Homo sapiens: one gene and its partner. The protein of the gene in region 2 interacts with the protein of the main gene of each other region in a biochemical or structural test. Each region holds a gene or a part of one and is shown on either strand. Other genes may lie near its edges.

Evidence for each region. Proteins that work in one complex are often made in the same cells at the same time.
Region 1: the proteins of CCKBR (region 2) and CCK form a complex in vitro, tested with the Homo sapiens proteins (3 studies listed by BioGRID).

Annotation. Positions count from the first base shown.
Region 1 is NC_000003.12:42,263,182-42,270,160, reverse strand, and holds the start of CCK (cholecystokinin preproprotein), read left to right. Parts: upstream 1-3,975; 5' UTR 3,976-4,477; intron 4,478-4,723; 5' UTR 4,724-4,892; intron 4,893-5,253; 5' UTR 5,254-5,464; intron 5,465-6,213; exon of another isoform or gene 6,214-6,338; intron 6,339-6,528; 5' UTR 6,529-6,530; coding exon 6,531-6,744; intron 6,745-6,979. UniProt on the Homo sapiens protein: This peptide hormone induces gall bladder contraction and the release of pancreatic enzymes in the gut. Its function in the brain is not clear.
Region 2 is NC_000011.10:6,269,835-6,272,658, forward strand, and holds the end of CCKBR (gastrin/cholecystokinin type B receptor), read left to right. Parts: coding exon 1-86; intron 87-253; coding exon 254-503; intron 504-811; coding exon 812-969; coding exon of another isoform or gene 970-1,176; coding exon 1,177-1,709; 3' UTR 1,710-2,293; downstream 2,294-2,824. UniProt on the Homo sapiens protein: Receptor for gastrin and cholecystokinin. The CCK-B receptors occur throughout the central nervous system where they modulate anxiety, analgesia, arousal, and neuroleptic activity.

The DNA of each region.
Region 1 (6,979 bases), on a different chromosome or scaffold from region 2:
GCTCTAGCATGTCCCTGGAAATTCCACTAAGTTTTCTACACATACAAAATTGACATATGTCTTTGAGCTAGGTCTCATGACTAAAAAAATCGTGTATTGAAAATATATCTGTTTCAGGAACTAATCTTCGGGGATACCTCCCCAACTCTGAGCAAGATCTTACTTAAATTCATTTCACCGCAATCAGATGGGAATTTCTAGACTCCAAACCAGTGAACAGTCACAGGTTTCCTCTCTCCACTATTTCCTTTCCAACGCGGCATCTGGATATGGCACCCTCCACTCTCAGTCCTCCAGATAAAGGCAGGGACCAGCTGGTGCGTCTCATTCCATGATGGGGAAGAGTGGGTGGTGGTGGGAAGGACACAGAGGGCACTGCCTTTTCCATTCCTTTTCTGAGACAAGAGAATGAGCTTGGCAGAAAAGTTAGTTACCGTCTCACATTTGATGAAATACAAAACAATCTCCAAACAGTGCGAACTCCCATACAACTTCCTTTTTCTCTATTTGGACTGAAAAGCAAAACCATTTCTCCATAATGTACATACATAGCAAGGTCTACACAGCAGACAGCCTAACAGGGCATCCCCCAGCAGTGGTTTGCATACGTTCATGCGGGTGCCCAGTCCTCCACAGACCCTCCCCCTACTCTACTTTTCTTGAAAACATGTGTGCACCTTCCATGCCTGCTGTGTATTTTTTAAATTGTCTGTCTCCTCCACTAGAATGGAAGCATCACAAGCACAGGGATTTTGTCTGTCTTGCTCACCACTGAATCCCAACAGTGCCCGAAAGACAGTTGGTGTCTTTGATAGGGTTATACTAAAATTAGACAGACTTGAGTACATGTCGTTTATTTGGGAGAGGAGGAAGAAATGAGAAGAGTAAGACAAAGAAGGAGGAAAAAACAACTAAAGAGATGTTATCAGCTGGGCTTGGTGGCTCACACTTGTAATCCCAACACTTTGGGAGACTGAGAAGGGAGGATTACTTGAGCCTAGGAATTTGAGACAAGCCTAGGCAACATGGTGAGACCCTGTCTCTACAAAAAATTAAAGTATTAGCAGAGTATGGTGGTGTGCACCTGTGTTCCCAGCTACTCAGGAGGCTGAAGTGGGAAGATTGTTTAAGCCAGGAAGCCGGGTTTGCACCACTGCACTCCAGCCTGGGTGACGGAGTAAGACCCTGTCTAAAGAGAGAGAGGGAGAGAGAGAGAGAAAAAAAAAAGAGAGAGAGAGCTGTTATCAAGTTCACCGATACAGGCAAAGGACCGTTGAGAAGTCTTTAGAAGCTTCCAGAAGGGTTCATACAGAGAGACTGGGGTTCCCATTCCCCACTGGCTGAAGATTGTCTTTCGGGGAGATAACACCCAAACTTACAGGCTGAACCTCTGCAAGGGCTGAACTTTGAAGGAGATAAGCCAAGAGGGGTGCTTTGAAAGCTTGAAGTGGGAATGCTGTCTGCTGAAAACTGCCCAGCCTGGCTAGGCTGCAGCTGAAGCCAGAGGGAGAACGTGGAACTGTGGTGAGGAGCACCAAAGGCATCTGCCTCAGGAGACATCAAGCCCATTTTTTTAAGTGAACAAATGGATTATCTTTAATGCGGATATGCATCTGGATTACAGGAATAGTGTCGGCTCCAGGCCTAACTTGCTTAGGAACCATAGTCAGAATAATTAGTACCTGTTGACCCTGTAAGAAGGAAAAATCATGACTATGGCCAAGGAGTTCAGATCCCTTATGTCTTTCTATTTTCCTAGCAGCTCTTCTATCACACATTTCCTGCTCAGAATTTCCACTCCTGAGAGACAAGCGGCTACAACTGCTTTATTTTACAATAAAGAGGCAAGCAGCTCTCTTGATCGTAAATGAGAAAGGCCCATGCACAAGCCCTTCTTCAGCTTCTGATGGTCCCTGTCACCTCTGGCTCTGCACTGGCATTTCCACGCTGGCCTCCTTGGCCCACTTGTCTGGTTCTGTACCAGCTCTTTTTCCTCCACCCACTCCTTCACGCTGTCACTCCTCAGCGGTCTGTCTAGAGGCACCCTGCCACCCATTGCTAGCTGCCTTCCTCAACTCTCCCTATAACTCCCAGGCTGGCAGCCACCACCCACATGCCAGACTCTGGGTCCACCCCTCCAGTGTCTCTCTGCTCAGGACAAAGGCTCCCAAACTCCTCCTAGACTGTCAATGCACAAACGATCAACCAATCCCATACTGGACTCATTACCCGCTCCCCACTGGCCCACTACCACCACGGCCACACTCCAAGCCTGCTTTTCCTTCTGAATTCCCTGTCTTGGATAATACTCTACCACCCACCCTTGTCTCCCAGCCTGGAAACTCAAGGTCAGTCTCAGTCACCAAGTCCGGTTCCCTCTACCAGTTTCCTGAGCAGCAACAGGTTGTTCCCTGGGAGGCTGGAATTTTTCTTCTTTTCTCTACTTTTGTTTTCTGAATGTTCTCTGATGAACACTTATGACTTGCATAATGTTTATTATGTTTCCTAATAATTAATGGGTTTCATAATGGCTTATTATTCTAAAACAAATCTACCTTGATTGTTCCTGCTTGCCCATCCCCGAGGGCCTCCTATCCAGCCCTCCCCTTCCAGTCCCTCTGCCTTTTGGGCATCTTCCATATTACCACCTAGCTCCCCTCACCAAAACATTTCTCCAAGATTACCTCCTACCATCTCCACTCCATAGTCCCCAAATATCAGAATTGTTGAGAAGTGTTTGTCCACTTGTTTGCTTCAGCTCCCCTATTGTATTGTCAGCTCTTGTTCATACTGAATCCCTGGGGCCTGGCACAAAGTAAGTGTTGAATAAACATGAATTAAATGGATCAAGGCCAGGAGTTGAGTAACTGGTATAAGGTAGGGAATTTCTATAGAAATGATCTCAAAGTGTGCTTGGCGGACTAGCATTTTCAGTATGGCCTGGGAACTTGTTAGAAATGTAGATTCTTGGTGGGGCGTGGTGGCTCACGCCTGTAGTCCCAGCATTTTGGGAGGCCAAGGTGGGTAGATCACCTGAGGTCAGAAGTTCGAGACCAACCTAGCCAACATGGTGAACCCTTGTCTCTACTAAAAATATAAAAATTAGCCAGGCATGGCTGCACATGCCTGTAATCCCAGCCGCTGGGGAGGCTGAGGCAGGAGAATCGTTTGAACCTGGGAGGCAGAGGTTGCAGTGAGCCGAGATCATGCCACTGTACTCCAGCCTGGGCGACAGAGTGAGACTCTGTCTCAAAGAAGGAAAGGCAAGGAAAGGAAGGAAGGAAGGAAGGAAGGAAGGAAGGAAGGAAGGAAGGAAGGAAGGAAATGAAGAAAGAAAGAAAGAAATAAAGAAGAAAGAAAGAAAGAGAGAGAGAAAGAGGGAAAGAGGGAGAAGGAGAGACGGAGGGAGGGAGGGGGGAAGGAAGGAAGGAAGGAGGGAGGGAAGGAAGGAAGGAAGGAAGGAAGGAAGGAAGGAAGGAAGGGAGAGAGGGAAAGAGGGAAGGGGAGAGAGGGAGGGAAGGAGGGAGGAAGGGAGGGAGGGAGGGAGGAAGGAAGGGAGGGAGGGAGGGAAGGAGGGAAGGAGGAAGAAAGGAAGGAAGGAAGGAAGGAAGGAAGGAAGGAAGGAAGGAAGGAATTCGGATTCTTGGGCCCTTCCTCAGACCTACTGAATTAGAAGCTCTGGGGGTATTTCGATAACAAGTTTATGTTTCCAGACATGTCTTGCCACAATCACAAATAAGACTCTTTTTCGCAACTGAACTACACAAACCTTAGCAGGCTCGTGGCGAAACCACTGGAAAGCATTTAATCAGCTTCAGCTCTTTCAAACATGTTGCCCATAGGTTGCAGAAACGCAGCTGCCTCTCAGGATTAGAAAGTGGAGCAGCAACCGGAGGCGTCTCTGGGCCGCCCCCCCAACCCCCCCACCCCGCCTCGCCCACTCCACCCTCACACTGGCGTTGCCACAGTCCCTCCATTCCAGAGGGAATTCCAGAGCGGAATACGGATTCCGATTTTAAAATAAGCGCTTCTAAATCTTTCTCCTTGCATCTAAGACGGGTGGGGGAAAGAAAGGGAGAGGAGTTGAGGTCCCAAGGTTCAAGGCCTGGTGATCTCCAGGTCCCAGGCTGGGCGGCCTCGGTGCACGGAGAGGGCGAGGGGCGTGTTGTGGAGCCTTGGCAAGGCGCTGCTCTTCCTCGCGCCTCGGTTTGCGGTCTGTGAAATGGGGTTGGCAGTGCCTTTGCAGGGACGCGGCGAACTCAAGCACCAGCAAGCGGACTCGAACTCAAAGGGTTTCAGGGTGTAGACGACCAGAGCGCACTGAGGGGCTCCAGGTCGGCCCGCTCCGGAGCCGGGAGAGTAACCGCGTGCAGGGAAAGGCGCACGGCAGCCTCGGTGCCTCCCTTCCCTCCACCGGACGGGTGACTGACTAGGGGTGAGGTCCTCACCTCCAGGCTGCGCAGCTGAGTTCTGGAAGGTACTGTCCTGGGGGTGTGAGTGTGTGGGCCCTCAGGAAAGGTGCGAGGGGCGGATGCCGTGGTCTACCCGAGCTTGCGGGGGTGCGGTGGTCAAGTTCCCCAGGACCCTCGCTGGCGCCGCTTGTCGACAACGGGGAACAGTGGGCGCCGCGGGTGGTGGTAACTTGGCCCGGGAAGAAAACACATCCCTTTCCCAAACCGGATTCCTCTGAGCAAAACCAGATGGTGTCATCCGCATTTTACAGCTGCGTCAAGAGAGGCCCAGGACACCAAGAGCCAGCTGTGGCCAGAGCCCTTTCACTGACCCAGAACACTGGCCCTCGGAAACCTGGAGAACTGCGAGGGCTTTTAATGCGGCTGAGAAGAAAGTGAAGACCCCGACTCCTCCTCTCTCCTTCGAAAGAGCCGACACAGGTATGAAGACCAGCGCCTCGGACGCTCCGGGGTAGGGGGCCGACGCCCCCTCCCTTTCAGAATCACGCCTTGCTGATGCTCAGTCCTGCCCAGTGTCCACCCCCCACCCCCGCCCCCAGTTTCCTTTCTAGCCCCTCCGGTCCCCAAAGCGAACTAAGCTAGCGGCAGCTTCTCCATCCCGGAGGAGACTCCAAACTCCTAGGTTTCCCACCTTGGAGAGTACTGCTCTGGAATGCGCAGGGGAGCGGCACCTGGAAAGGGTTGGGCGGAAGCTTCTCGGACCCAGAGGGGGCGGACACCCGGCACCGCGCGTGGGAGGGATTAACTCCACCCCACTAGACCACCTCCCCCTCTCTCCCAGGAGCCACTTCAACCGGTTGTCGCCCCAGTGGCCGCCCTCTGAGCACGTGTTACTGCCAGTCTGCGTCAGCGTTGGGTAAATACATGACTGGCCGACGCCGCCGGGTGGGGCTATTTAAGAGACAGCCGCCCGCTGGTCCTCCCTGAACTTGGCTCAGCTGCCGGGCTGCTCCGGTTGGAAACGCCAAGCCAGCTGCGTCCTAATCCAAAAGGTAGGTCCCTCGGTTCGTCAGCGGGGGATCCAAGTGTCGTGTGTCTTTGAAGGATGCTGTCTTCAGCTTTGTGCCCATTTCCATTATGCTTTTCTATTTTCTGTGTCTTCCCTCCGAGAGCTCGAAAGACATTTCTTGAAGTCAGAAATAACGGCTCTGGGTCTAAAAGTGAGGTCTGGGTGGGTAGAGCTGCTTTAGAGCCTTTCATACGCCAGCATCATTAAGGGATGAACTACCCATTCGCTAAGATTCGCATGCAGATTGAGTTTGCTAGCTGTTACACAGCGGTGCGGGGGACTTTGCAATCTTTTCTAATAAAATATTAGAGGGTTTTAAGATTTAAATTCATTTTCTAAATACTGCAGAAAATTTCGAGGCTTTACGGATAGAAACTTGAGGGTGTTTTATCCACTAGCGATCTAAAATGCACGGGGCTTTCGAAGCCTGAGCGCTGGGCACATATTTCTGATTTTAAAACCTGCCTATGTTCTGCGTAGTGGCTTATTGCCATTTCCCACGTACACTTTGAGAAAAACTTTATAAATACGGCTTTATTTATTGCTCCTACATTTTAAACTGTGCTTCTCTTTTTCATCATTTACTGTATTTCCATATTGAAAGCTTGTTAGCTATCTGGAAAAGTGCTTTCCCCAGGGTTCTCATTTCTCCCACGGAGTCTTCCCTTTAGGATATTTTTTTCACACTATTTTTAATCTCGTGGGGTTTTATTTTTCTTCTTTCGGTTAGAAGAGAGGCACTCTGCAAACACTTCCTCAAACTTTAGGAAAGCAAAAACATTCCTTCTGCTCAACACGGCAGAAAACAGGGTCTCTGCCCCTTGGCGCTGGGTGAGGAGTTCCCAAAGACCAGCCAGGTGCGCCCGGGGGCGCGCGCCATGGCACTCGGCTGGGGTCAGCGCTTGGCGAGCCCTCGTGCTTGCGGCGGCCTGGCGGGTCTGGAGCACCTGTGTTTGTCCTAAGCCCGCTTCTGGGTGCCCGGCCCGCCGCAGGAGCTCTGTTGCCCAGCCTTTCAGTTAACGCGCCCTCCTCCTTTGCTCGCTACAGCCATGAACAGCGGCGTGTGCCTGTGCGTGCTGATGGCGGTACTGGCGGCTGGCGCCCTGACGCAGCCGGTGCCTCCCGCAGATCCCGCGGGCTCCGGGCTGCAGCGGGCAGAGGAGGCGCCCCGTAGGCAGCTGAGGGTATCGCAGAGAACGGATGGCGAGTCCCGAGCGCACCTGGGCGCCCTGCTGGCAAGATACATCCAGCAGGCCCGGAAAGGTAAGAATGCTGCCTCCCCATCCCTCACTTCTGCCCTTGTTCCCAGGCTCCCGATGCTGACCCTCTTCTCTAGCGCTAGCCTGATGGGGATGACCTCTCTCGGTAGGAAACAAGCAACATGATTTCTGGCGGTCCTTTGTAGCAATCTGAGAAGGGGTATGGAGGACTTAATTTATAAGTAAGGGGAACCTTCTTGAAAAGCTTTCTTTGAACTAATTTTTAGCAGTGTTGCTGA
Region 2 (2,824 bases):
TTGCATGCCCTTCACCCTCCTGCCCAATCTCATGGGCACATTCATCTTTGGCACCGTCATCTGCAAGGCGGTTTCCTACCTCATGGGTGGGTGAGACAACCACCCCACCCCCACTTGCCACTCTCCCCGCCTAAAGCTCTTGTGGATGTAGGGGTCTTCCCCGGTTGGCAGGGAGGGGTGTGAGGAAGTCCCACTGATGCTTGTGTAGTGCAAGTTTCCTAGGTGACTCCTTCCTTTCTCTTCCCTTGTTTAGGGGTGTCTGTGAGTGTGTCCACGCTAAGCCTCGTGGCCATCGCACTGGAGCGGTACAGCGCCATCTGCCGACCACTGCAGGCACGAGTGTGGCAGACGCGCTCCCACGCGGCTCGCGTGATTGTAGCCACGTGGCTGCTGTCCGGACTACTCATGGTGCCCTACCCCGTGTACACTGTCGTGCAACCAGTGGGGCCTCGTGTGCTGCAGTGCGTGCATCGCTGGCCCAGTGCGCGGGTCCGCCAGACCTGGTGAGCTTGCCCATAAACTATCCTAGGAATTCCTTTCTCACCCCTATTAGATGCTTACGACCATTGCCCAGAATCTTCCTCCAGCTTCCCGGAGAATTACCACGCCAACTCCTATTCTGCATCCACCACCCTGGAGTTCCAGTTTGGGGCCCCTCCCCAGTTCTCTCTCCCTTCCCAGCGGCACCCCCAAATCCTACTCCTACTTCAGGTACCTGGCCACAGCCCTAGAAACACTAGTCCTTGGCTTTTTCTCCATCTGTGATTACAGCTGGACAGAAACCCGAGTGATCTGTCTGTGTTGCCTTCAGGTCCGTACTGCTGCTTCTGCTCTTGTTCTTCATCCCGGGTGTGGTTATGGCCGTGGCCTACGGGCTTATCTCTCGCGAGCTCTACTTAGGGCTTCGCTTTGACGGCGACAGTGACAGCGACAGCCAAAGCAGGGTCCGAAACCAAGGCGGGCTGCCAGGTGGGGCTGGACCACGTGAGCAAAATCTGGGCGAGGCGGAGCTTTGGAGGGCGACGGGGCCTGCTGGAGTGGGTGGGACTGAAATGAAGGTGAGGGTGAGAAGGAAGCTGGAAATGGAGTTGAGCTGGGAGCGGAGGTCAGGTGGGGACTGGGCTGGAGACTGGGGGGACTCGCCTTTTTCTCTGACCGCCCACCCTTTGTGCTCAGGGGCTGTTCACCAGAACGGGCGTTGCCGGCCTGAGACTGGCGCGGTTGGCGAAGACAGCGATGGCTGCTACGTGCAACTTCCACGTTCCCGGCCTGCCCTGGAGCTGACGGCGCTGACGGCTCCTGGGCCGGGATCCGGCTCCCGGCCCACCCAGGCCAAGCTGCTGGCTAAGAAGCGCGTGGTGCGAATGTTGCTGGTGATCGTTGTGCTTTTTTTTCTGTGTTGGTTGCCAGTTTATAGTGCCAACACGTGGCGCGCCTTTGATGGCCCGGGTGCACACCGAGCACTCTCGGGTGCTCCTATCTCCTTCATTCACTTGCTGAGCTACGCCTCGGCCTGTGTCAACCCCCTGGTCTACTGCTTCATGCACCGTCGCTTTCGCCAGGCCTGCCTGGAAACTTGCGCTCGCTGCTGCCCCCGGCCTCCACGAGCTCGCCCCAGGGCTCTTCCCGATGAGGACCCTCCCACTCCCTCCATTGCTTCGCTGTCCAGGCTTAGCTACACCACCATCAGCACACTGGGCCCTGGCTGAGGAGTAGAGGGGCCGTGGGGGTTGAGGCAGGGCAAATGACATGCACTGACCCTTCCAGACATACGAAACACAAACCACAACTGACACAGGAAACCAACACCCAAAGCATGGACTAACCCCAACGCACAGGAAAAGGTAGCTTACCTGACACAAGAGGAATAAGAATGGAGCAGTACATGGGAAAGGAGGCATGCCTCTGATATGGGACTGAGCCTGGCCCATAGAAACATGACACTGACCTTGGAGAGACACAGCGTCCCTAGCAGTGAACTATTTCTACACAGTGGGAACTCTGACAAGGGCTGACCTGCCTCTCACACACATAGATTAATGGCACTGATTGTTTTAGAGACTATGGAGCCTGGCACAGGACTGATTCTGGGATGCTCCTAGTTTGACCTCACAGTGACCCTTCCCAATCAGCACTGAAAATACCATCAGGCCTAATCTCATACCTCTGACCAACAGGCTGTTCTGCACTGAAAAGGTTCTTCATCCCTTTCCAGTTAAGGACCGTGGCCCTGCCCTCTCCTTCCTTACCCAAACTGTTCAAGAAATAATAAATTGTTTGGCTTCCTCCTGAACTTCCTTTCTGGATTCTTCTGGGGCAGGTGAGGAGGCATAGGATTTTGCAGTATCCTTCTGTCGGGTCTCTCCCACTGTTGCACACTGCTGTGCACAACCCCTTGCCAGAAAGCCCAGCCTCTGAGGTTCAGCGTGGCTGTGCATATTCTTTCTGAGTTTTCATCCTCTACCTACATTCCAATGTTGCAATAACTGTGAATGGGGATGGAAAATGGCATATCCATGACATATCATGATTCCTGATCACATTATCCCAAAGTGGTGCCACTGTTAAGGTACTATATTAATGGATGCTTATTAAATTTTGATGAAAAGATAAAAGAGGAAGCACTGTATAATAAGACTAAGTTTATTCAATGTGTGTTTGAAACACCAGAGATCAGACCATGACAGGTATACAGAATGAATACAGTTAATTAAAGAGTAGGGATTTTTTGCTGTACTCTCTTCCCCAGTGTCAAAACCTGGCCAAGATTCTGCCAAATGGAAGCACTTTTAGTAGCTACAACAAAAAAAGACCTGAATAGGAG